4 linked regions of the Homo sapiens genome follow. The protein of the gene in region 3 purifies or fractionates together with the protein of the main gene of each other region. This does not show direct contact. Each region holds a gene or a part of one and is shown on either strand. Other genes may lie near its edges. The genes, in order: TOR1AIP1, CAND1, AIFM1 and ACAD10.

Evidence for each region.
Region 1: the proteins of AIFM1 (region 3) and TOR1AIP1 purify together in Homo sapiens (affinity purification with mass spectrometry; 3 studies listed by BioGRID and IntAct, with this or other methods). This does not show direct contact.
Region 2: the proteins of AIFM1 (region 3) and CAND1 purify together in Homo sapiens (affinity purification with mass spectrometry; 2 studies listed by BioGRID and IntAct, with this or other methods). This does not show direct contact.
Region 4: the proteins of AIFM1 (region 3) and ACAD10 purify together in Homo sapiens (affinity purification with mass spectrometry; 2 studies listed by BioGRID and IntAct, with this or other methods). This does not show direct contact.

Annotation. Positions count from the first base shown.
Region 1 is NC_000001.11:179,906,263-179,913,292, reverse strand, and holds part of TOR1AIP1 (torsin-1A-interacting protein 1), read right to left. Parts: intron 5,471-7,030; coding exon 5,429-5,470; intron 4,689-5,428; coding exon 4,620-4,688; intron 1-4,619. UniProt on the Homo sapiens protein: Required for nuclear membrane integrity. Induces TOR1A and TOR1B ATPase activity and is required for their location on the nuclear membrane. Binds to A- and B-type lamins. Possible role in membrane attachment and assembly of the nuclear lamina.
Region 2 is NC_000012.12:67,300,330-67,307,359, reverse strand, and holds part of CAND1 (cullin-associated NEDD8-dissociated protein 1), read right to left. Parts: intron 5,038-7,030; coding exon 4,745-5,037; intron 2,756-4,744; coding exon 2,614-2,755; intron 2,257-2,613; coding exon 763-2,256; intron 1-762. UniProt on the Homo sapiens protein: Key assembly factor of SCF (SKP1-CUL1-F-box protein) E3 ubiquitin ligase complexes that promotes the exchange of the substrate-recognition F-box subunit in SCF complexes, thereby playing a key role in the cellular repertoire of SCF complexes.
Region 3 is NC_000023.11:130,128,843-130,134,852, forward strand, and holds the end of AIFM1 (apoptosis-inducing factor 1, mitochondrial isoform AIF precursor), read right to left. Parts: intron 4,614-6,010; coding exon 4,471-4,613; intron 2,958-4,470; coding exon 2,833-2,957; intron 1,325-2,832; coding exon 1,128-1,324; intron 787-1,127; coding exon 715-786; 3' UTR 520-714; downstream 1-519. UniProt on the Homo sapiens protein: Functions both as NADH oxidoreductase and as regulator of apoptosis.
Region 4 is NC_000012.12:111,745,041-111,752,070, reverse strand, and holds part of ACAD10 (acyl-CoA dehydrogenase family member 10), read right to left. Parts: coding exon 7,028-7,030; intron 5,928-7,027; coding exon 5,787-5,927; intron 5,023-5,786; coding exon 4,885-5,022; intron 4,777-4,884; coding exon 4,686-4,776; intron 3,755-4,685; coding exon 3,596-3,754; intron 2,899-3,595; coding exon 2,726-2,898; intron 1-2,725.

The sequences.
Region 1 (7,030 bases), on a different chromosome or scaffold from region 3:
TCATCTAAATCTATTTAGAAAATAAATTAAGCCGGGCACAGTGGTTCATGCCTGTAATTCCGACAAATCAAGAGGCTGAGGTGACAGGACAGCTTGAGCACAGGAGTTTAAGGCCAGCCTGGGCAACATTGTGAGACCCCATCTCTAAAAAAAAAAAAAAAAATTAAAAACAAGAAAAGAAATTAAAAATGATCCTAACCCTTCCCTTTCCCTTCCATCTTTCTTAGCATACCAGCAGGTTTTAAAATCTAAGAGAGGAAATGGAAGGACAGGCTTCAGAAGGTGGAGAGGCTGAGTTATCTCATTTGTATGACCTATATTACCAGTATTGCCGTCTATCACTTGCCTGGAGTTTTATAACTTTTGTATATATAAATGAACTTCCTGGTGGATCTTCTTAGCGTTATATCAACAACTTTCATTTGAGAAACACTGGAATAACTGGAGGAATAATATTAGCCCTGCTAAGATTCAGAAATAGCCTTATTTTTGATCATATGACAAAAAACTCCATAATGATGTAGTAAGACAAAATGACAGCAACTGTAAGAGGAATACTGTTTTTCAATTACTAGTTTAGCTTAGGATATTTCATTATTTAGAAGCTTCTAAGTTAGGTTATCGAAGTTACAACTAAAATAACAATAAAAATACCTAACCACATGAAACCCAAATCCATCAGATAATGTTTATTTTGAATACTTCACTCCATGGTTGCAAAGATCAAATGAGATAATATATACAAAAATGCTGTGAAGTGCAATTCTATGATGTTAATGATGAAGGACAGCTAAATAATAATTATGTACCATATATAATATTTATATAATTCATATAACACAAACACATACACAGCAGGGTATATACTGCCAAGGCAGGACATTGTCCAAAGTATAACTGCTATCCTTTTTATCAACATTACTAGAGATGCTAACAACAATTCTAAAAAACATCTTTTTAAAAGAAAAAACTCAGCTGGGCGCAGTGGCTCAAGCCTGTAATCCCAACACTTTGGGAGGTCGAGGTGGGTGGATCACCTGAGGTCAGGAGTTTGAGACCAGCCTGGCCAACATGGTGAAACCCTGTCTCTACTAAAATACAAAAATTAGCTGGGTGTATTGGTGCACCACCAGCTACTTGGGAAGCTGAGGCATGAATGAGAATCGCTTGAACCCAGGAGGCAGAGGTTGCAGTGAGCTGAGATCACGCCACTGCACTCCAGCCTAGGCAACAGAGCAAGACCGTTTCAAAAAAAAGAAAAAAGAAAAAAGAAAAAAAAAAGAAAAAAAAGAAAAAAGAAAAAAAAAAAGAAAAAAAGAAAAAGAAAAAACTCAAGCTTTTCTAGTCTAAAGAGTATGGTGATAATCAATCACTCTACAACCATCAAGAGTAGAGGGCACAAATCCTCCATAGTTGCTATTGATTCTACAGAAAACATTAACAATAAATAAGCCCTGATAATTATGAGATTTTAGACTTTAAAAAATTGTGTTTACACATATAAGCTCATTACAATAATCTAGTTATAGGCACTACTGTCTCTAAAGGCAAGAAAATTGAGGTTCACAAAGGTTAAGTGATTTTACCAAGATTACTCAATTAGTAAGTGGAAGAGCTAGGACTGGAGCTCAAGAGCTTTAACTCCAAATTGTCTTCTTTTCTCTATCTAAATTTCTGAGACAGGTTCCAAAACATTTATATTAGTTCTCTGACCTCTCCATGCACATATATTCTTCTCTATAATCATTGTTTTATCACCTGGCAAACAGGAAAAAGTAAAGACAGTGGTTCCATCTTTCCTAAAAGGTTTGGATGCAGGCAGAAGCCTGAACTGGGACCTGTCTACAGGAAACTGTTGCTAACGTCGGGTGACAATGTTCCATGGGGTAGAATCTATAGCCTAAGGTTCTTGAACACTCAGCTCTAAAAATGACTTTTTTTTCCTCACCAAAGCGGGCAGAAATATATAGTTAAAGAATGAGAGATAAAATGTGGAATGCTAGGAAAACATTTTTTTAATATTCTTGAAGAGGAATCTATTATATAACAGTGTTTGAAAAATCACTGTAGTCTTCCACTTCCATTGAAAATATTTTCTTCTTGCTCATCGTTCTATCTTAAAGTCCTCATGTGGTTGAAAGTCTAAAAGATCCTATTACATGCACACTTCTGGTGTGTTACTGTTACATAACTCTGAAAGCTCAATGTGGTTATCTATATATGGTAGGTGGTTAGCAACCAATGTATAATTCTGTAAGCCATAATAAACATAGTAACTTAAGACAAAGTAGAAATGCAAACAGATAAAATACTAAAAATTAGCTATCAATTTAGCAACTAAAAAGATCTATTTCTGCATTTCTATTAGATGTTCAATATAATTATGTTTCCTTCTCTATTGCAGTGTCTTATTAGAGGAAAAAATTATGCAAAGATTTTCTGATAAGTATGTACTAACTTCACTTATCTGGAAGTCATTTATCTGATATTAATTACTCAGAATGTACAGTTAAGAACTAAGAAATGACACAAGATGCCTCTGAGCTTTTCACATTATATACACTAAAACTCATGCATTTTTACATCCAAGAGTATCTCTTGGGTCTTCAAATTTAATTTTAATGTTTGATCCTGGTTATAAACATAATTCTAATAAGCTGAATAATTAATGTTTGGTTTCCTAACTATAATAGGTCAGGAAGAGCAAATTATAAGAGGAAATGGTTTTCTAATAGCAGGCACATAATCACAGCAATAAGAAATGACAACCAACAGTAAGACAAGGGCAAAAAGTTATTTCGGTTCTAGACTGCTTAAGAACTCACTTACATGTGGGCTAAAAACGTCACTGCTGAGAAAAAATGAATTATGACCACTCCTACTTTACTGATGGAAAAGCAGAGCCACGCATGTCATTTGGTCCAATTACAGTTAATCATCCCATGAGCAAGAGATATAAGATGTGGATTTTTACATTACCTAAATAAAAGTAAGAGAATACCTGATGACCTCAAGACCTATTGTGGTTAGATGAGTAAAGTAGGGAGGTTAAAGGTCACTTAAGGCAGAGAATATGCATGGACTTTAAAAAAATATGGTCGAGATTTAACGTGGACGCATTTCCATAGAAATTATAGAAAGTGAGTTCAAAGTACGATGGTTTTATCACATCAATTTATAGTATTCCTTAAATTCTGTGACATTTAATCCATCCAAAACCTAAACATGAGGCTGGGTGTGGTGGCTCATGCCTGTAATCCCAACACTTTGGGAGGCTGAAGCAGGCGGATCACTTGAGGTCAGCAGTTCAAGACCAACCTGGCCAACATGGCGAAACCCCGTCTCTACTAAAAGTACAAATATTAGCTGGGCATGGTGGCGCATGCATGCAAGTCCCAGCTACTTAGGAGGCTAAGGCACAAGAATGACCTGAATGTGGGAGGCGGAGGCTGCAGTGAGCTGAGATTGTGCCACTGCACTCCAACCTGGGCGACAGAGGGAGACTTCATCTCAAAAAAAACCCAAAACAAAACAAAACACCCCCAAAAACCCAGAAAGGCTGGGCGCAGTGGCTCAAGCCTGTAATCCCAGCATTCAGGGAGGCCAAGGCAGGCAGATCATGAGGTCAGGAGTTCAAGACCAGCCTGACCAATATGGTGAAACCCTGTCTCTACTAAAAATATAAAAATTAGCCAGGCGTGTAACAATACAAAAATTAGCTGGGTGTGGTGGTACGCGCCTGTAGTCCTGGCTACTTGGGAGGCTGAGGCAGGAGAATTGCTTGAACCCGGGAGGCAGAGGTTGCAGTGAACTGAGGTTGCACCACTGTACTCCAGCCTGGGCAACACAGCAAGACTCCATCTCAAAAACAAAACAAAACAAAACAAAACAAAACAAAACAAAACAAAAAACAGAAAAAAAACCCTAAACATGAAAATATAACTTGTGCATTTCAGCCTTTATTATGTAAAATTATGAGTATACAAAGCTGTTCCAAAATCTGCTAAAAGCAAAAAATAAGTATTGTCAAAAGAGTAGAATTTCATTATTGTATACAGACTGTATTGCTGCTATAACTGACAGCTTGTTAAAATCCATCAATCTCTGGTTTTCTCTTTTTTTTTCTTTTTTTCAGATGGAGTCTCGCTCTGTCGCCCAGGCTGGAGTGCAGTGGTGCAATCTTGGCTCACTGCAAGCTCCGCCTCCTGGGTTCACACCATTCTCCTGCTTCAGCCTCCCGAGTAGCCTCCCGCCGCCACGCCCAGCTAATTTTTCTTTTTTAAATATTTTTAGTAGAGACGAGGTTTCACCGTGTTAGCCAGGATGGTCTCGATCTCCTGACCTCGTGATCCACCCACCTCGGCCTCCCAAAGTGCTGGGATTACAGGCGTGAGCCACCGCACCTGGCCAATCTCTGGTTTTCTCACGCCACTATTTACATTCTACACCCAGCCCATGTGCTGCCAGTCCAAGAAATTACTAAACTAGTAATCATAGCTGTACTTTATTAGTGAAATCACAAACAACCTAAATGTTTATCTGAAGAACTAAATATTTTTGTCAAGAAAAACATAGCAAATACACAAGATTATTTCAATAACAGAGATTTATCTACTTACTTTGCATCCTGGTCCTTATTCTTGCAGTTTGTGGGGCCCATTCCTGGGGAGTTTTTTGATATCCTGAGCCTGAAGCAAATACATATATCAAAAGATAATTTCCCATACTTTGAAAGTTTATACCATATTCCAGTGTTATAAAATTAATCTATCAGAAAGACAAAATAAAGTAGGGGAAGAAAACAATAAAAGCAATAGTTTTATAAGTAAAAGATAATTTCAAAGGATCGTATCAGTGAGGATGAACCACTTCCTACAGCAAAGCAGGTAGCAAATAAATATATTATCACATAATACAAATTACTTGTGGTAAAATAGCCCTGAACACATTTCCATATCACAGAGTAATTATTATAGGTAGTACCAATCCGTGGTGAATTAAAAAGGTAAAGAGGGGTAAAATGACTTAAAATCTTATTACAACTTTTGTTGGGAGAATAAGGCAAGGTTAGAATTGATTGACTGAGGCTGGGTGCGGTGGCTCACACCTGTAATTCCAGCACTTTGGGAGGCCGAGGCAGGTGGATCATGAGGTCAGGAGATCAAGACCATCCTGGCTAACACAGTGAAACACCGTCTCTACTAAAAATACAAAAAATTAGCCGGGCGTGGTGGCGGGCGCCTGTAGTCCCAGCTACTTGGGAGGCGGAGGCAGGAGAATCGCGTGAACCCAGGAGGTGGAGCTTGCAATGAGCCCAGATTGCACTCCAGCCTGGGCGACAGAGCAAGACATCGTCTCAAAAAAAAAAAAAAAAAAAAAGAGAAAAGAATTGATTGGCTGAAAAAAGAGCAGACAACCAACTACTTACTTAGCACTGAAGGTTGCTTATCATGAGCTGTGAAGTTTTGACCTGAAACAGAAAACAGGGATAAGGTCATAGAATACTTGAAAATAACAACAAAAAAGATGTTGCACAGACATTTTGCTTGTTTACTGTGGATACTAAAAACAAACAACAGACAAAAAACATTCTCTCATCAATTCCAAGCATATAAATATATAAAGTATATATATATAAAAAACATACATATACTATATATATACATATATATACATATATATATATATATATATATATAAAGTGTGTGTGTATTTCTTTCCCCCTCATTTCTAAACTTCAAAATGTTTAGGAATTGGGCAACAATAAGGAGTTAGTTTAGGATCAGTACCATCAAAATAAAAACTACATATAGTCATATATATCAAGTATAATTTTGTTTAATTCTTTTTTTTTTTTTTTTTTTGAGACAGGGTCTGACTCTGTCACCCAGGCTGGAATGCAGTGGCACAATCTCAGCTCACTGCAACCTCCGCTTCCCAGGTTCAAGATATTCTCCTGCCTCACCTTCCCAAGTACTTGGGATTACAGGTGTGCACCACCATGCCTGACCAAATTTTTTGTCTTTTTAGTAGAGACAGGGTTTCCCCATGTTGGCCAGGCTGGTCTCAAACTCCTGACCAGGGTTTCACCATGTTGGCCAGGCTGGTCTCAAATTCCTGACCTCAAATGCTCTGCCTGCCTCGCCCTCCCAAAGTGCTGGGATTACAGGCATGAGCCACCATGCCCAGCCAATTTTGCTTAATTCTTATGTGGTAGATGCTATTACTGTTCGTATTTTATAAATAAGGGAAAATCAGCTGGATGCGGTGGCTCATGCCTGTAATCCTAGCACTTTGGGAGGCCAAGGCAGGTGGATCATGAGGTCAGGAGATCGAGACCATCCTGGCTAACACGGTGAAACCCCGTCTCTACTAAATATATAAAAAATTAGCCAGGCGTGGTGGTGGGCGCCTGTAGTCCCAGCTACTCGGGAGGCTGAGGCAGAAGAAGGGCGTGAACCTGGGAGGCGGAGCTTGCAGTGAGCTGAGATCACACCACTGCACTCCTGCCTGGGCGACAGAGCGAGACTCTGTCTCAAAAAAAAAAAAGGGGGGGGGGGAACCAAAATTGGTAATTTTTCCAAAATTATATATCTAAAAGTAGTTGGGCTGAGATACAAATCCAGGCAGTCCATATCATATACCACATACCATACCATAAAGAAATGGTATGTACTATCTATGCAGATTTATGGACATTGCAAAGTAGCTATGAAGTAAAACATGCTACTTCAGGTTTTGAGGTGGTATTTAAGGATAACTGTAAAATGACACAATGGGATGACTAAAAAATGACATTACAATTATAACAAGGTAAATTTTCAAATCTGCCCTGAGAAAATGAGTTACTCTTTGATGATAAATACAAGTATCGATTTACATTTATTTATTTTCAACTTTTTCTGAATACAAACATGTGCTAGCTGTTTAAAAAAAGGGGCCATTCTAGAAATGCTTAATTTAAAAATTCATGAATATCTATCTGTTAAGTATCTACTATGTGCAAAACATTGAACATAGAAATATTATG
Region 2 (7,030 bases), on a different chromosome or scaffold from region 3:
TCCACTAAAACTCACGGACATCATTTTTAAACCACTCCAAATAACACCAGTGTCTTCAATGCCTTAGAATTCTCCTTGGCCAAGAAGGGTATTTCTTATTGCACACATGAATCCAAAGGAGCAAAATTAACTTACTTATGAGCACAAAATATAATCCCATTAGATTTCAAAGAAACAATTCCTTCTGGGAAGGAGGGACTTGAAGCAGCAGTGGACGATCTCGCCCTCACAAAATAGAACTAGCTAAATCCAAAACCGCTTAAAAATCTTCAAATTTTTTACTAAAACAGAAAGCAATGTCTAAGAATGAATGGCTATTACTGCTATTAATATTACTACCTTTTACTTGTTCTAATGGGGATGACACTGGTAAATCTGAAAACTCTTCCAGAATCTTCCATTTGAAAAAAGTACTGTCACCAATTATACTTATTGTAATTAGTATCAACAAGCTCTTCAGATTATGTTAATTCATTAGATACATCTTTTCCACATTTTAACACAATATAGTAACATTAAAATGTAGTTATCATGAGGAATTAGAACAGATTTAACCATTATCTAATTACCACACTATCCTTTAAAACAACAAAATGTCATTTGAATATCACTCCATACTACGAAAGACAGTTTTTCTTCATCACATACTTAGCTTTTAGGTTTAAGAAAATATAGACATGGCTTAACTTCTTTATTAGGTGTCTTTTAAGGCAACCAACTATCAATAAAAAACTTTTTAAGTAAGAAAATCTAGATACCTACCTGATATCAAGTACCCCTTAAGCCGTGGAAGGAGAGTTTCTGGATCAATTAGAGTGAGTTTTCCTAGACATTCAGCAACAACATTTCTGGTTCCTTCCTCTGCACACTCACAGTGCTTTAGTAATAAGGCCCAGATGTTTTCAACATATGGTTTAAGGCCCACCACTGATGCAGAGCTAATAATTTCCTTCAAGGAATGAAGTAAAAGATACTGCCTTTTGGGTTGACTAGTTATTTCTTGCAGGACAAACGGCAGATATTCAGGAAGGTTGCCCACACTAATGCTGCCTAATGCATAGGATGCAGCTGATTTGACTTCTTCACTAGGAGATGAGAAAGCTTCTAGTATTACAGATTTTAGTTCCAACTGTCCACTTAAGTCAATATGATGCCCAACTTCTCCAAGAGAAAGTAGAGCTAAGAGACGAATGGAATCTGTAGACCTTGAGTTCTTGACATCTTGAATAAACTGACCTACTACAGCTGGTCCCTCTTTAGGGCATGCTCGAGTAAGGGCAGCTACACATTTGGCAATGGAATAATAAGACTGCTTATGAGTAAGAGCTGTGCTCTGAGAGTAAACTGGACCAGTCAGCATGCGCAACAAATCCATGTATCCTAAATTATTTGTTCCAGTGACAACCAGAGCTTGGAAAAAGTCTAGCATGGCACTAAGAGCTCCCCCCTGCAATAAGGGTGATCTCACAAGTCCAATAAGTTCATTGAGAATGGATCCACTTATCTTTGAAAGGGAGGAGGGATATACTTTTGCCAAAGTGGTAAGAAAACTGATGGCCATTTGTGAAACATGCATATCACTTTCGCTGATAAGAGGTGGGAGCTCATCTAGAACTGCATCAATCATGGCAGCTGTCAAGCTGTCACTATAGTTTTTTATTAGAATATCAAGGGCAGAAAGAGTACCCAGTTTCAAAGCTCTCTGGTTTTTTCTAAGAAATGAAGCAAGGATAGGAACCCCTTCTCCCAGAACAGGCCTCAAATCTATCTTCAAAGGTGACCCAGCAATCAGTGTCAATGCCTTTACTGTAGTTAACCTGGTAATTTCATTCTTTAGTCTCTCCAAGAAAATCTGAAGTGTATTAGGCAAGTCAGAACCCAAATTGTCTCCAAGGTTGCAAATAATTTGTCCCATACAGGAAATAGCCCTTTCCTTGACTTCCTGATCAATGTCAGCTGCTTTTAATCTCTTAATGGTACAGGTAAATAGATCTTTGATATAAGGAGTTGCATCAAACGAGGAAGGCTGATCTAAAGGACGAATTACTTTGACAAGCTGTTGAGTAACAAGAAGTGCTTCAGATGTAATTTTGTAAAATGGGTCTCCAACACAAGCCACCACTGGAGGAACCAAAGCCTGAACGTGAGGATGGAAGACTTGAGGAGAATGGTTACAGAGGATTACGTATAGACATGACAAAGCATCGATCTTCAAATTCGATGAGCTTGATTTATCATTCAGTGAGAAAATGATTCCTAAAAAGCCAACAAAAAATCCAATCATTGCTGTGCAGACTTTTAAGAAAGAAAAATTAAAAATCAACCCCTATAGTACTGCTAATGTTCCCACTTCATTATATTATTTCTATAAGTAGAAATTTTCACCATCTACAATAAATATTACAGCCAAATATTTTAGGGTGAGACTTTTAACCTTTTACTTACAAATTTCTAACTTCAGGTATTCAAGATTGTTAGATTAAAAAGTTAGCTCTATGTGCATATTAAGTTGTCACATATATTCCTTTAAAAGGAAACAATTATTTAAGCTTATCTAAGTCCTAACAAAAAGGCTACAATAAGTCCCAAAAGAGATTTATGTTTCTTTCATACCTGGTACAAGTACAGGAATGTGTTGAGTTAGGGCCCCAGGTAATACATTTACCAGCTCAGTTAACATGTTAAAACAACACTGTCGGGTCTTCACACTTTTTTCTTTCATCTGTTTGTGAAGAGCTTTAACAATGTTGGGAACCTGCAATTATCATATAGTCATTAGCTGGTTCAGCTGTTGGTATTTCCTCAGTACACTTAACATGAATTATGGAGAATGAGGATAAAGGGAAGAGTTTATCTTTTTTTGTTAAATTCCTAATTCAGCTATCTATTGCTATTGCTAACACAAGATCAAGTTTGTTGCATGTATTATATATGTTCTCTTGTAACTATATTTGCTTGATACTGATAAGAAATTACAGAAAAGCTATCATTTAGCTTTCCAGAGAGCAACAAAATAGTCTTCCCTACTTAATTTTTAATTGTGAAACATACATGACTAAAAAGAAATTAATAGGCTGGGCACAGTGGCTCACGCCTGTAATCCCAGCACTTTGGGAGGCTGAGGCAGGCAGATCACGAGGTCAAGAAATCGAGACCATTCTGGCCAACATGGTGAAACCCTGTCTCTATTAAAAATACAAAAATTAGCTGGGCGTGGTGGTGCATGCCTGTACTCCCAGCTACTCGGGAGGCTGAGACAGGAGAATCGCTTGAACCCAGGAGGCGGAGGTTGCAGTGAGCCGAGATAGCACCACTGCGCTCCAGCCTGGCAACAGAGCAAGACTCCATCTCAAAAAAAAAAAAAAAAGAGAAAGAAAGAAATTAATCAAATCATATTTTCAATAAAAAATTTAGGAGGTTAATTTATAAATGGTATTTTGAATGACAACAGCACAGATAAAAATCAAAGGAAACAAGACAAATTATGGAAAAGCAACCATCGAACAGGTCCTTTTCTTACTTTCCATTTGCTGTTAGAAGGAATCAACCTCACTTCAAATGTAGCTACAAGCAGCAGGGGTATGATTAAAAGACATCTGCTCTAAACTTCCTAATGTTTTGCTAGTCAGTAAAACAAACAGGGTCTCTACTAACAAATCTTACGGATGCAAAGCTATCAACGGAGCTTCTAGAATACCTCAACAGCAAAGCAAGTACAGAGTAAAAACAAAAAGCCAAGAAAAATCCCAACAACCAAACTACATGGACACATACCCTAATTACACAATGATCTAAGAACTAGACAAAACAAAAAAAATGTCTGACTTTCCATAGCATTGTCAGAATTCCTGGCAACTCTACTGAGCAATACCTGACTTCTATATACTCACTCACTTGCATATGTCCTCCATACACTTTATCTCATTTCCTTCTACAATTAATCTTCAACATTCACCTTTATGAGTAAGTTCACCACAAAAATGTATTTATTTGTACTACTTAAAAACAAGATAGATACAGTATGTGTGTCCCGTCCTCTCCACTGGTTTAATCCCTGGCAATATCTGTTTTGTAATCTATAAAAATTGACCTACTATTTGTGCATCCCATAGGGCTGCTGTAGAGATTACATATAAGATAGGAGAATGCCTGGTATGTAATAAATATTCAATAAATGGGAGCATATAATAGCTCTAATGTTTAGGATCTTAGAAAACAAATGCCCTCAAGTGAAAAAATGTGTATTTTATTAGTAAGTACTGGCATATATCAAGCATATATGTAGTAGGCACTACACTGAATGCTCTACACAGATCACCCAGCTCTCACAACCACAGGTAGATATTTCTAAGTACGTTCTTATTACAAATAAGAAAAGTGAGGTTTAATAAAATGACTAAATAACTTGCCCAAGATCACACACCTAAATTAGAAATGAAGTCAGTTATGTGATCGCAAGTAGTATGACTCCACAGCTCTAAGACTTCTCTATTAACATCAAAGATAAAGACTACTTTACTGAATCTTAAAATTATTTAAATATTGTTTATCATGTAAAGCCAAGAATAATTCAATTAGAATAGTTTACAACTAACATAATATGAACATGCATTAACTATATAAACATATCCTAGAACTTTCTGCTTCTCTATAGATATTCTGGAACTCACCTTTCCATATAAAGACAATTTTAAAAGCATTGCATTTACTATCATGATTTTCTAAACTTTACTTTAAAACCCACCTGACTCTGAAGCATTGTTAAAGGTGTTTCTCCCTGCTCCATTGCATCAGGGTCACATAGCCAACTTTGTACAGGACGAGTTTGCTTCAAAAGAGAAAGGTATGCGTGAAAAACATCTGCCTTTACATTCTCTTCACGCTCTTTAAATCTGGATATTAGTGCAGGAGAGACGGTCTTGTAGAATTCTGGAAGCATTTCATGCCTTGTGCTAACTACAGCATCCAAGCACTTCGCAGCTGCACGTCTCACTTTCCAACTCATGTCATCATCATCACTGTATTCATCATCACTCCCTAAGGGTAAGTTTTAATGTAAACAGGCTATTAATGACAAGAGAAGTATATCATTTAAAACAGAAAATCAATTGATATTCTTAACCAAATCAGTTAATCTAACTTTCCGGTAACATATACAGCAACAGGTAGGTTTCAACAGAACTAGAACTTGAACAAAGAGCTTGTTATTTCTGTAAATCTGCACATAAATTAAACTTAAAAAACAAACATAATGGTATTTTTAATTAGTTAAACATTTTCTCATTTACTTTGTAATGAACTGCTGCTTATTTTAACCCTTTAAAATCATCAATTAACACATTCAACTTCTTTAGAATATAAATATTTATAGTCATAAATTTCCCAGCCTTTGAAACAAAATTCAAAGAACTTACTTAACAGCATAGGAAAAATCAAGCAAACAATCAGGGACTTTATAAGACAAACCATGAAATGGATTTGTGGTAATAGAGTAGGTGATAAAAAGAATGGTTACCAATCCCAAAACACTGTAGAACTAATTTGCTGGGAATAAAAAGAAGGTTGACATCAGCTTTGTGACTACAAGGCTTTTCACTCAACTTGTTGATAAGCTGTGAGGAACAAATATGTATATTCTAAACCTTTCACAATTTTGTCTTAATGTACTTTAACAAAACCATTTTTGCTTAATTATACCAAGAAAATGCTGCACACTTAACAGAGGACCATTTTTTCCCCTAATGCTAAACCTTAAACATTCAAAGCAAAAGCACTAAGAATTGTATCTCACTTATCTATACTTGATGGATAACATGTGTGTGAAATCTCCAGAAAATCTTTCTTTCTAACACCATCAGGTTTAATTAGTTGGGTAATATGAAGTCAGAAAGGTGGCAGAAATATTAGCAGTTATCATGATAGTCTAAAATTATCTCACAATAATTTCTTTATTCTTAGATAAGACTATACATAGCCTTGAAATAATAGAGCGGAGTAGTAACTTTTTACTGGCTTTTATTCCAATTAGCTTAGTTTGACAGTCAAATGTAGCCAGCTAGGCCTTAGAAGATTCTACAGTATACAACAAAATAATAAAATTTTCCAACTCAAAAGCTTAAAATTCACCTTAGCACATTACAGGAAAATACAACCAAATACTGCTAAATGCAAGACGTTTGCTTATTTACCAATATCTATTCAAATAAAGTTAAAAGATACTGCCAAAATACACTATCAAGTTAAGAGCACATAAAATTTTTTCCATGTCAATACACTATGGCAATTGCCTCCCAGAAATATAAGCTTTATTAAAAACAAGATTATAAAAAATTAACAAATGTCCTTATTCACTAAAATTACGTTGATTTTATAAATCACAAAAACACCATGGTAGAAAAGTCATTTAATGGGTATAATTCATACTAAGTGATAAAGCAGGTGAAGTACCTAGTTTGTTATACAGCACACAAAAAAACAAAATTCAAAACCTGGAATATACATTGCTACTGCTTTCTTCAAAAGATATTCATATTAAAATATAAGCTAAAGTTTCCCTTCATTAATACAACCCATTTATTGATTGCCTGTGTGTCAAGTACTGTCCTAGGCACTGGAATAAAGCAGTCAATCAAGAGATTAAAACATCTAGCCTTCATGAAACTTATATTCTAATAGGTAGGAGACCATCAATTACAGTATGTCAGAAAGTTACTAAGTGTGATAAACAAAATAAAAACAATAAAATGAAAGATAGTTCTGAGGTGGAAGACTAGCTGAGGGATGTGTGAAAAAGGAATCAGGTATGACTGCAAGGTTTTTGGCCTGATCAACTAAGAAGAATAGAGGTACCATTCTGAGATGGAAAAGGCTAAAGAAGAACAGGTTAGGTGGGAGATGGGGAAGGGGCAGGGAAAAGATATTTTAGATATCCAAGCAGCAATATTAATTAAGCAGTTGCATATGAATCTGGATTCACAAGTGAGATCTGGATTAAAGATAGGATGTGGGTTGCCAGCATATTGATATTAAA
Region 3 (6,010 bases):
AGTAAGTGCCCTTTCTGTCCCCTGCAGGACCCAATCCAGTTCTGGGACAGGAGTTGTTCCAGGTAAACAAAGTCTATTCCATACATTTATTTGTTCACTCATTCGACAATGATCTATGAAGCACTTACTATGAAGCAGACCCTGTGCTAAGCTCTGGAGATAAAACCATGAGCAAGGCCTTAACATCAGGGCTTCTGCTTCCAGGAAGTCATGGGCTAGCAGGGAGACACATACACAAGGATGAGGCTTGGAAGGCTGGGAAAGTCTTCAGAGATAGTGAACTTCCTGAGAGGAGAGGAGGGGAGTCAAGTGTTGTGGGCCGAGGCCACAGCAGGTGTGTGCAAAGAGGTCTGGAGGGGTGAGGGAAGTTCGGAAATGAAAGGAGTTTTGCGTCTGGAGTAGGGCATGAATACATGGCTGAGAAAAATCCTGTGCTTGGTCGGTGCTGCAATTTGCTTGCTTTCTAATATGCGTGGCTTTCCACCTTCACCCACCTGCCCCCTTGACAAGAGAACAGAATTTAATTTAGAAGAATCAGAATTTATTTCACTATGTGAACATTAAGAATTTACCTACATAGTTGAAAATATTCACAAAGGACTTGATCATTCACACTCATACACAGAGAAAGTCTGCTGAATAAAAAAATGCTCCTTTACCCATTCGACCTCCTCTCAGGGGCTGCAGTGGGTTTGCCAATTCCACTGTGGGGCTTCAGTCTTCATGAATGTTGAATAGTTTGGCTACTTCATTGAGATCTTCATGCTGCTCACCGTCCTTAATGATCTGAGGGAGAGAGAGTAACAATAGGTCCCTAACTTACTCCATTGCGTTCAGGCCATGCCCACACAATGGGGCTACCTGGGGCAGTCCCCATATCACACTGGGAGGGAGTTGTGGGAACAGTTCTCTACTAACCCCAAACAAGCAGCCTGCCAACTCCCAGGTCACCCAGCCAAGTCCCAAGTGAAAAAGAATGTTCCTGAGCCAAGGCTATACCTTTGTTCTGCTCAGGCACAATTTGACCTGGCCGGGGGACAATGCATCTCAGGGCACCCGATGAAGTTACAGGAATGTTTCTAAGCCGTACTTCCCATCTTCCTCTAAGAGTTATGACAGGCACCTACCTTCCTTGCTATTGGCATTCGGTTAAAGATGTTCCATAGCACAATCCCCACGACCACTTTGTCCCTGAGGTAGAAGATGACACCTTTGCCGTAGTCCTCCCCCTGGACGGGAGCCTGTGGAACTGCCGGGGTGCTGGGAGGAATAGTAATTTCTGAGGCCTCGGACTCTGTCTCACTCTCTGATCGGATACCAGTTCCTGTGGCCAGCCCCCAAAACAAATAAACATGGAAGCAAAATCAAAACTTCAGTTATTATGAGCTTGGGAAATTCTAGAAGCCAACAGTCTTTCGAGGCCTGCTTCAAGCTACTTCTAGAGGATTTATTTCTCTATGCCCCCTCAGTAAACCCTGGCCTTCACCAGCCCCTCTCCAGTGACAAAGCCAAGGAAAGGTCTTCCTTGCCAGCTCCTGGGCACAGGGTCAGTCTGACCCTAAACTTCCCTCCCTTATTATCTCATTTTAAATTCATGCTATGAATATTTCCTGGTATCTGGATTTCTTCAAACTGCAGAAGGCTGGTTCTTGTCCTCTAAGAAATAATTCTAGAGCTGCATGGTCCAAATACAGTAGCCACTAGCCACAGCCATGTAAATGAACATCATTTCAAACTGAGTAAGATGTAAAATTCAGTTCCTTATCTGTACTCACCATGTTTCATGAGCTCAAAAGCCACATGTGGCTGGTGGCTAACGTACTGGACAGAGCAGAGATGGAACATTTCCATCGCAGCAGAAAGTTCTATTGGACAGTGCTATTAGACAGGTACTTTAGACAAAGCAGAAGGCACTTCCATTTGGAAAAACCATAGTGGAGGCATTTCTTCCTAGAGAAAGAGGGGAAGGGAAGGGTGGCATAGGAAGGGGGCACCTTGCTGAGAACCACCAGCCTCCAAATAATACTGTCCAGTCGACAAAGCAGTGACATGAATCCACTTACTAGGTTACTAGGAGAGATCAGAATTAAGGAATATGGAATACATTAGAATTACACAGGAAAAGGACCTACATATCCATATAATGTCTTGCTTTCTCCTTCTTAAACAGCACCTTGCCCTTGAGACACCTCTGGCAAAAGGATGCAGAAGTTAAATAACTTGAGCTAAGGTCAAGGAATAAGGTCTCGGAGTTAATGAAAGAGACATGTGTGGGAGAGAAGTCCATTCCAAGAGAGGTGCCTCCCATCTAAAGAAAACCTGGCACTAAGATCTGCCAAATGGAATGGGAGGCAGCTAAATAACTACTCAGCCCAGTTCCTCCCTGCGCAGGACCCATGGAGGATAGCCAGTCTTAAGCTAAGCCTATCAGGCCGTGTTCTTGAGATTCGCCTGAAGCAAAATAATAAAAATGACAACTGAAAGAAAGAAAAATAAAAACGCAATCTAAAAAGTTCAGGTTTTCTTGTTTTCTTCCTTAGAAAGGTCTTCCCAGAGACACACAAAACAGCAGTGTCATTGAGCTAGCCACTGTCCACTGTCTAGGACAGATACCCACAATATTTGAATCTATGCTTTGACCAGGATACCTGATTTTGCCAAATCTCAGACCACTAAAGAGTGAGGACTTGGGGTTTGGTTTCTTTTAAAGCACAACATGAAGAGAGGCTTTCACTGACAAGCCCCTCTGGCCAATACAGAAACCCCTTGTTCAGGAGAATCTGGACCACTGCTTCTCAACACTCTCCAAGAGGAGTGCTAGGACTTTCTTACCTGACTGCTCTGTGGCAGATTTGGGGTTGTCTTGTGCAGTTGCTTTTGCAAAAACACCAACTGTGGGCAAACTACTGTCCACAAGACCAATAGCTTCATAGCCAACATCGGGGCCCAAATCACTCCTAAGAAGAGAGAAGAGGGTGTTCTGTCAAGGGACTGTAAGGAATGACACGGTAGCACATATTCTCCATGACACTGCATTTTTTTTTTTTTGAGACGGAGTTTCACTCGTTGCCCAGGCTGGAGTGCAATGGGTGCGAACTCAGTTCATTGCAACCTCTCCCTCCTGGGTTCAAGTGATTCTCCAGCCTCAGCCTCCTGAGTAGCTGGGATTACAGGCACCCACTACCACCCTGGCTAATTTTTGTATTTTTAGTAGAGACGGGGTTTTACCATGTTGGCCAGGCTGGTCTTGAACTCCTGACCTCAAGTAATCTGCCCGCCTTGGCCTCCCAAAGTGCAGGGATTACAGATGTGAGCCACCGCACCCGACCAACACCGCACTCTTATGCCAACCAAAGAACTTAGTATGCAGATCACGAGAGATGCCAACTGATCTGCTGTTGCTAGAGCATCTAGGGATGACCATGAGAAAGTAAGATTAACCCTAATAGCTTTGACTTTTCCTTAAAAAGCCATTATACACGACCACATATCCATGCGGTGATTGAAACGTTCTTGAATTTATTCGTGCTTTTATCCCATGCCACATTTGGAAAGTGATGAGGTTCCCACTTTTGCTATTCACTACTTTTGTCTTGAAATTCCCTTTTTGAAGCTTTAAAGAGTGTTCCACATTTATGGAATTCAGAATTTGAGATGTTTTATGGCTTCATTAACCTACAGTATTTCCCCTTAGCCTCCACTTTTCTTTTTTTTAACTTTTAAAAACTTTTTATTTAAAAAATTCAGACGAGCTCTTGCTATGTTGTCCAGGTTGGTCTCGAACTTCTGGGCTCAAGCAATCCCCCGGCCTTGGCCTCCCAAAGTGCTGGGATTAGAGGCATGAGCAACCATACCAGACCAGCCTTCATCTTTTAGGACTGGAATGCTTTCTGACACTCCTTTTTTTTTTTTTTTTTTTTTTGAGACGGAGTCTCGCTCTGTCACCCAGGCCGGAGTGCAGTGGTGTGATCTCGGCTCACTGCAACCTCCACCTCCTGGGTCCAAGCAATTCTCCTGCCTCAGCCTACCGAGTAGCTGGGATTACAGGCATGCACCACCACGTCCAGCTAATTTTTGTATTTTTAGTAGAGACGGGGTTTCACCATGTTGGTCAGGCTGGTCTCAAACTCCTGGCCTCGTGATCCGCCCACCTCGGCCTCTGACCTATTTTGCCGGAAGTGCTGGTGCCATCTCCATTCATTCACCTAGTCTAACATACGCCAGACAGAACACTTAAAATAATTTTTTTCTCTTTTAATGTTTTACAAAAGGATCAGTTTGGTGAAAAACTAAACAGGACACTTCTGCCAGATGGCTACCTGAGGGTAGAATGTGTGGACATAAGATGGACTTTTTTCCCTTCTGTATGAAGCTAACTGGCTCATAATAAAACCAAACCATAACTCTGTGTTATGGTCCTAGAGATACTGAGTTGTAATCAGTTGGGTCTCCAAGGCACACCACTATTACCAGAACATTGACTGATGCCAGTACGGCTTAGCAGCTCCAGTCATATTTTCTCCAGCCAATCTTCCACTCACAACAGCGTGATCATGGTGCTCTACCCGCCTCCTTCCCAACTTTATATCGTAGAAGCATGCAGCATCTCCTGCCTGTGGAAACAAATACATAACATGAACACATGATAAAAAAAAAAAAAGCAAGTTAAAGACAAAATATAAACTTTGGGGGCTCAAAGAACACTTGTAATGGTAACTAATTCATGTTTTCCATCTACAGGCCAGAGTTGTACTTAAACTAACAAAAACAGCTGATAACCCATTTAAATTTTTTTTTTTTCTTTTAGACAGGGTCTCACTCTATTGCCTGGGCTGGAGTGCAGTGGTGCGATCATGGCTCACCACAGCCTGGACCTCCAGGCTCAGATGATCCTCCCGCCTCAGCCTCCCAAGTAGCTGGGACTACAGGAATGCACCACCATGCCTGGCTAAATTTTTTTTTTTTTTTTGGTAGAGATGGGGTGTTGCCATGTTGCGCAGGCTGGTTTTGAACTCCTGGGCTCAAGCAATGTGCCTGCCTCAGCCTTCCAAAGTGCTGGGATTACAGGCATGAGTCACCACGCCTGGCCTGAGATCTCATTTTAAAACATCTATTCCAGGCCAGGTGCAGTGGCAAATGCCCGTAATCCCAGCACTTTGGGAGACCAAGGTGGGTGGATCACAAGGAGTTCGAGACAAGCCTGGCCAATATGGTGAAACCCCATCTCTACTAAAAATACAAAAAATTAGGCGTGTGTGGTGGCAAGCGCCTGTAATCCCAGCTACTTGGGAGGCTGAGACAGGAGAATGGCTTGAACCCAGGAGGCGGAGGTTGCAGTGAGCTGAGATCGTGCCACTGAACTCCAGACTGGGAAACAGAGCGAGACACCGCCTCAAAAAAAAAAAGAAAAAAAAATCTATTCTGCTTCCATAAAGCTAACCTAAATCTTCTATAGTTTTGTTTACTTATGTCTACTTCCTGTTCTTTCCTTAACAGACAGGATATTTAATAACCATGATTTGCAGAATATTCTTTTCTATATGTAGAAACCAGTTTTTGGATGTGACTGCCTCTCACCTAGAAATGTTTTCTTAGATTTCTTTTTGTCACTCAGTATTCATTCATTCGACAAATATTTATGGAGTACTTATTATATACAAAAGTATTATGTTGTCCGGGTTGCTGAGACAAAACTGACATGGACCTTGACTATGAGGAGCATACAACCTAGTACAGAAAGATACAGCCTTGCTCACAACTACAGAGCAATGTAAACAGTAGTGTGCCATATGAGAGGTACAGATTAAAGGAGTCAAGTATTTCAAGCAGAGGGCGAGAACCTCCAGCCGGGGGTGAACTGGACCAGCTTCATGAAGGATGTGGCATTTGAGCTCTCTAACCCTTTGTTCATCTTTGTGGCTATTTAGACTCCCCCAAAGCAACCTAAAAATCCAACGAGTGAGCAACCGTAAACTGTGAAATTCGCTTAATGGAATATATAGTCATTAAA
Region 4 (7,030 bases), on a different chromosome or scaffold from region 3:
TTTTTTTTTTTTGAGACAGAGTATCGCTCTTGTTGCCCAGGCTGGAGTGCAATGGTGCGATCTCGGCTCACCGCAACCTCCACCTCCCGGGTTCAGGCGATTCTCCTGCCTCAGCCTCCCAAGTAGCTGGGATTACAGGCATGCGCCACCACGTCCAACTAATTTTATATTTTTAGTAGAGACAGGGTTTCTCTATGTTGGTCAGGCTGGACTCGAACTCCCGACCTCAGGTGATCTGCCCACCTCGGCCTCCCAAAGTGCTGGAATTACAGGTATGAGCCACCACACCCAGCCCCACCTGGCTACTATTTTTAATTTTTTAATTTTAATTTTTTTTTTTGAGATGGAGTCTTGCTTTGTCACTCCGGCTAGAGTGCAGTGGTGCAATCTCAGCTCAGTGCAACCTCCGCCTCCTGGATTCAAGTGATCCTCCTGCCTCAGCCTCCCAAGTAGCTGGGATTACAGGCATGTGCCACCATGCCCAGCTAACTTCTGTATTTTTAGTAGAGACGGGGTATCACCATGTTGGCGAGGCTGGTCTTAAACTCCTAACCTGAAGTGATCCGCCCACCTCAGCCTCCCAAAGTGCTGAGATTACAGGCGTTAGCCACCGCGCCCAGCCTTATTTTTTATAGAGATGAGGTTTTGCCGTATTGCCCAGGCTAGTTTCAAATTCCTGGGCTCAAGCAATCTGCCTGCCTCGGCCTCTCAGAGTGCTGGGAGTGTCACCACACCTGGCCACAGTCTTTTTTTTTAAATTTAAGTGTATATAGTGAGCAATTTCTCCATGTTAAGGAATAGATTTCCACAGCATCATTTAAAGTCTCACTGTATGCCATCTTGTGTTTTATTTGGCCAACAGTCATTGTTAGCCTTATAGGTTGTTCAGAATTTTGCTATTTCAATAAGCACTGTGGTGAACCTCCTTGTAGCAAATCTTTTGTAGATTCCTAATTACTCCAACCAAGTCTTCAGTGGAGGTGCCATGTTCATGCTATGCACTTTCTGGAGACTTCTGTCTGACTCATTCAGTCCAATTATTCTGCCAGAAGGCTGAATTTAATTCCATGTGGGGCTGAAGCACCATACCTGAGTCCATAGACAGGAGCGTTTTACTTAGAAAGAAAAAATAACTGGTCAGTCTTAACTCAAAAGGGTGTAAATCACAGGTTTGCTCGGTAATAAAAAATTCAGACTGCCTCTGTTCTTTCAATAGCAGTTCTTGTGAGACACTGGTTTTGGTCTCAGGGTTTGCGTCACCTTTCTGAAATTGATAATCACCAATTTGAATTCCTGTCCTGGAAGCAGCTGTCTTTTAACCTAGGTTTCCAAACTTTGGGGGTGGTAGGATTATGGCCGAATAAAGTTTTCTGGATGTGCTGTGGAGGAGGGTGGTACAGGCCAGATGATGGAAGCCTAGGGACAAAAACAAGCAACATGGGATCTCCCTGGTGTCTGATTTTTATTTATTTATTTATTTTTAAAGAGACAGGGTCTCACTCTGTCACCCAGGCTGGAGTGCAGTGGTGTGATCACTGCTCACTGCAGCCCTAAACTCCTGGGCTCAAGCGATCCTTCTGCCTCAGCCTCCTGAGTAGCTGGGACTAGAGACACATGCTACCATGCCTGGCACTTAAAACTTTTTCTTTTTGGCCAGGCACGGTGGCTCACGCCGGTAATCCCAGCACATTGGGAGGCTGAGGTGGGCGGATCATGAGGTCAGGAGATCGAGACCATCCTGGCTAACACGGTGAGATCGAAACCATCCTGGCTAACATGGTGAAACCCCATCTCTACTAAAAATACAAAAAATTAGCCAGGCATGGTGGCGGGTGCCTGTAGTCCCAGCTACTCGGGAGGCTGAGGCAAGAGAATGGTGTGAACCCAGTAGGCAGAGGTTGCAGTGAGCCAAGATCGCGCCACTGCACTCCAGCCTAGGCAACAGAGTGAGATTCCGTCTCAAAAAAAAAAAAAACAAAAAAAACTTTTTCTTTTTTTTGCCGGGCACGGTGGCTCACACCTGTAATCCCAGCATTTTGGGAGCCCGAGGCGGGCAGATCACGAGGTCAAGGGATCGAGACCTTCCTGGCCAACATGGTGAAACCCTGTCTCTACTAAAAATACAAAAATTAGCTGGGCGTGGTGGCACGTGCCTGTAGTCCCAACTACTTGGGAGGCTAAGGCAGGAGAATTGCTTGAACCCGGGAGGTGGAGGTTGCAGTGAGCCGAGATCACACCACTGAACTCCAGCCTGGTGACAGAGCAAGACTCCATCTCAAAAAAAAAAAAAAAATTTTTTTTTTTTTTGTAGAGACTGAGTCTCTCTTTTTCGCCTAGGCTGGTCTCAAATGCTTGGCTTCAAGCAACCCTCCTACCTAGACCTCCCAAAGTACTGGGATTATAGCTGTGAGCCATTGCACCCAGACTGATTTTTAATAATGTGCTAGCAGCATGACCTTTACACCTTGGAACCTTGCCTCTGCTGCTACAGAGCCTGGCGTTTCCCTTCAGGTCACCTCGACAGAGTGGGGTCCATTCTGCTCTGAATCCAAACTGCAGCAAAGTAGCAGATGCAAAGCAGACAGGAATGCAACTTCTTGGCAAGGACATCACCTTGCTTCACCTGCTAGGACTGCACTCAGAAAACAGGTAGGAATTGAAGTCCGACAGCAAAGCAGAAGGTGGTGGTTCTGAGTCAGTGCTGGGTGCGGGGGAAAGCACTCACGCGGGCCTTCATGAGTGCCAGGGCCCTCTCTGAGAACCCGATCAGCCTCATGCAGTGATGGATCCTGCCGGGGCCCAGTCTGCCCTGGGCGATCTCAAAGCCTCGGCCAGGGCCCAGGACCATGTTCTCTTTGGGCACACGCACGTGCTCAAATCGGACTTCACCATGGCCACCTGAAAGACCCAAACGATCACTGTGAGCAATAGCCATAGTCATTTTCCTTGGATGTGTTTATTCCTCACCTCAGTCTGGGTTATCTGCTGGCAATGTCCCTGCCCTTTATTTAGCCTTCTTACTGGGACATGGTTAAAGGGAAAAGGACGGCAGGAAACAGCCTGTTAAACACAGAAAATGAATCACTGATTTATAATGGCAAATGACTATTCTGTGATTCCTTTTATAAAAACATAATAATGCCACCTTAAGCTGAAGCTCCTAGTGGTTTGTGACAATGTAGTGATCCTATGAAAACACTGAAAGTAAAAATGTGAACACTATTAGCAGAGAACCAAACTGGGAGCGGACCAAACCAGGGCTGTGGCCTAGAGGTCAGCTGTTCACACTGGGGCCTGGAAGAGTAGGTTTGGGGTCCACTTCCTGCGTCTGCCCTGTATGGCTTCCTGTGTCACAGACTCCTGATTACTTTCTAAGTTTAGAAGAGGGAAAAAAATCCATAAATGCCTGTCTGAAATCCGCCTGCATGGTTGATATTCATGTATGGAAATGAAATGCAGGAGCATGTGACTCCAAATGTCATCATACCCTCAGACGTGGGATGTGGCAAGTCCTGAACAAGAGCAGGGGCCCCTCAGTGGTGTTTCCTGGGGACCAGACCCACACCCAGGGGTGACCCGCCCCTGGAGGTCTCACCTGGTGCATCTTCCAGTCCATACACCGTCAGAGGCCGGATGATTTTTATCCCTGGGGTATCCATGGGAACCAAGAGCACAGACTGCTGCCGGTGTCTTGGTGCATGTGGGTCTGTTTTTCCCATAAACACACAGAGTTGGCAACGAGGATCCAGGATGCCTGCCAGGAAAGGAGAGAGACAGACCCCATCATCTGACACCAGGGCCATCAAATCTCTACACACGTGGTCCTGGCCCAAGAAAGGCACAGTAAGGAAGCAGACAGAGCTCTTTAAGGCTCCATGTAATCAGATGAGCATCTGCAGACTGCTGACCAGAAATAAGAGCAAATTGGGTTTTGTCCCAGTGAGGAATGAATCCAACATCATAAGAGCAAGTTTTTAAAAGCATCACATAGAGTAGAAAATATAATTTAGAGACAAGAGGATGAAAACCGCTACTTGATCCCTGCCAGCTGGCTCGGCTCCCACAGGTGGTGCACACATAACGGCTCTGGGCCCGGGCCTTGGAATCAGGTGAACCTTTGACTCTGGGTTCTCTACTTGCTGGCTGGGGGCTCATACCCCAGGCAAGGGACCTAAGTCTGAGTGCGGTTTCCTCCTTTGCAAAATGGGGATGCTCATTCTTAATGTCCAGGGAGGTATGGGCTCCGGGAGGTAAGCTCCACGGCTACTTGTAGGGGCCCTGCAAAAGTAACACTGGACAATCCCTAAAAGTCAGGATTGTCATTAGCCCTTAGGATGTAACACACCTGATCGAGGAGCCAGGAAGCCACCAAGGAAGGGGAGCTGCCCAAAGCAGAATGAACAGCAGGAAGTGGAGAGATTCCTGGGGTCACATGTGCAGGGAGGCATCCGTCCATGTGTGGGCACCGGGGGACGTCCCTGCCCTGTGAAGTGCCACCTCTGAGAACAGTGTGCTCCACGGATTACCCTCCTATTCTCCCAGCTGCCTCTGCTGGGGGCGCTAAGTGACAGAATCTCCTTTGTGTCAACTTGAAAAAGCAGAGGCTCCTCCCAGGCATTGAGAGACGCGCCTAACAGCACAGACTCCCTGATGTGCATTTGGAAAGTGCATTTTAGGCCAAATACCTGTGATCCACCATTTGTGACCGTTTATGACATAGAAGCTGTCCTCCTCTCTGATGGAAGCCTCAATGTTGGTGGCATCTGAAGAGGCAACCTGAGTGGGGAGCATATTCCAGTCAGAGACGCCAGCAGACAGCCCGTGTTCCCTGTGGGGCCGACAACAACAGGGCCAGGCAAGTGGGTGGCAGCCCAGGCGACGTACCTGGGGCTCGGTCATAGCAAAACAGGAGCGGGCTTTCCCCTCCAGCAGAGGAATCAGCCAGCGAGCCTTCTGCGCTTCGGTGCCATACCTCACCAGCAGCTCCATGTTGCCCGTGTCAGGCGCAGAGCAGTTACATACCTGAGAAGGAAAAGGAGCGTGACCATGACTGTCATGTCCTCTTCTAAAAAAAACAGAGTCAAGCTCTGTCACCCAGGCTGGAGTATCGTGGCACGATCATGGCTCACTGCAGCCTCGACTTCCTCAGCTCAAGCCATCCTCCCATGCCTCAGCTTCCCAAGCAGCTGAGACTACAGGTATGCACCATCACACCCGATTAATTTTTTATTTTTTTGTACATACAGAGTTCTATGTTGCACACGCTGGTGTCGAACTCCTGGCCTCAAGTGATCCCCCACACTTCGGCCTCCAAAAGTACCGGGATTACAGGTGTGAGCCACCATGCCTGGCCTTCTCACATTAATATTTCAAGCTTCAAATTGGATGGGCATGGTGGCTCACGCCTGTAATCCCAGCACTTTGTGGGGCCAGGGTAGGTGGATCACCTGAGGTCAGGAGTTTGAGACCAGTCTGGCCAACATGGTAAAACCCTGTATCTACTAAAAATACAAAAATTAGCCAGGTGTGGTGGCACATGCCTGTAGTCCCAGCTACTTGGGAAGCTGAGGCAGGAGAACCACTTGAACCCAGGAGGCAGGGGTTGCAGTGCGCCAAGATTTCGCCACTACACTCCAGCCTGGGTGACAGAGCGAGACTCCATCTCAAAAAAAAAAAAAAGTTCAAGTTCATGCCAGTGCTTCTGAATCTGGTTTATCTGTTTAGGATTGAGTTCTTATGAAGATCAGGATGTTCCCACACACTGAGGAAAACTTTAAAGAAGGTACCTCGGGGGCATACAGGGACGTGCCCATGAGCTCACACAGATGTGCATATTCCACATTGGTCAGTCCTGCTCCGTATTTTTTCTCGGGATCAGCCTCTAAGGGTAGGAAAAGGTTCCAAAGTCCTTCAGCTTTGGCTTTCTCCTATCATGGGGAAAATAAGTCAGGAAACCACAGTGGAAGATTTCATTTTATTTTGAACCGTGGAAAACAATGAAAGGGATTGGAGGAAACAAGGCAGACAACCAAACATGCACGTGTGCCCAAAAAAATGATATGAGGAGCTGGGCATGGTGGCTGTGCCTGTGGTCCCAGCTACACAGGAGGCTGAAGTGGGAGGATCACATGAGCCCAGGAGGTTGAGACTGCAGTGAGCTATGACCACACCACTGCATTCCACCCTGGGTGACAAAGCGAGACCCTGTCTCAAAAAAAAAAAAAAAAAAAAAAAAGAGAGAGATGGTGGCTCACGCCTGTAATCCCAGCACTTTGGGAGGCCGAGGCGGGCGGATCACAAAGTCAGGAGTTCAAGACCAGCCTGAACAACATGGTGAAACTCCATCTCCATTAAAAATACAAAAATTAGCTGGGCATGGTGGCACGTGCCTATAATCCCAGTTACTCGGGAGGCTGAGGCAGGAGAATCGCTTGAACCTGGGAGGCGGAAGTTGCACAGAGCAAGACTCCGTCTCAAAAAAAAAGAGAAAAAAAGAAAAGTAGATGATGATTGCATTATGCTCCTGAAGATCTCAAGTAATTTCAAAACTAACACAATCCAAGGTTCACGTGATAAGGAACAGCGGGTGTTTCTGTTTATCAGCTGAAGTGACAGCACTGGGAGACAACACAGAAACTCAGCTCACAGTGGATCTGGCCCTCTAGCTGTGATATTACGGGTTCTCTAGAGAGAGATTTATTAGCTGATACAGCACTGTTTCAAATTTACATAATTCAAATACCCATCAGATAGGCCTAACCTGCCCTGGCTTTCTAAGGCCAAGCATTCCACTGCCTGGGCTGTGCAGTCACACCTGAGCCATCTGCCTGTGACACAGGCACAGCAAGAGCAAGAGATGGAAACTGAGTCATGAAGAGCTGGCTCTTTCTGAGACGATGGAAGCAAAGATCATTCAACTCGGAGCTCCTGTATCTTCACTGCCTGGGATGGTTCAGGTGAGCCCGGTGGGGTCGGGGAGGGTATGCCATGGTATTGGGGTCTTACCACCTCACCATGGCTGCTTTACCTT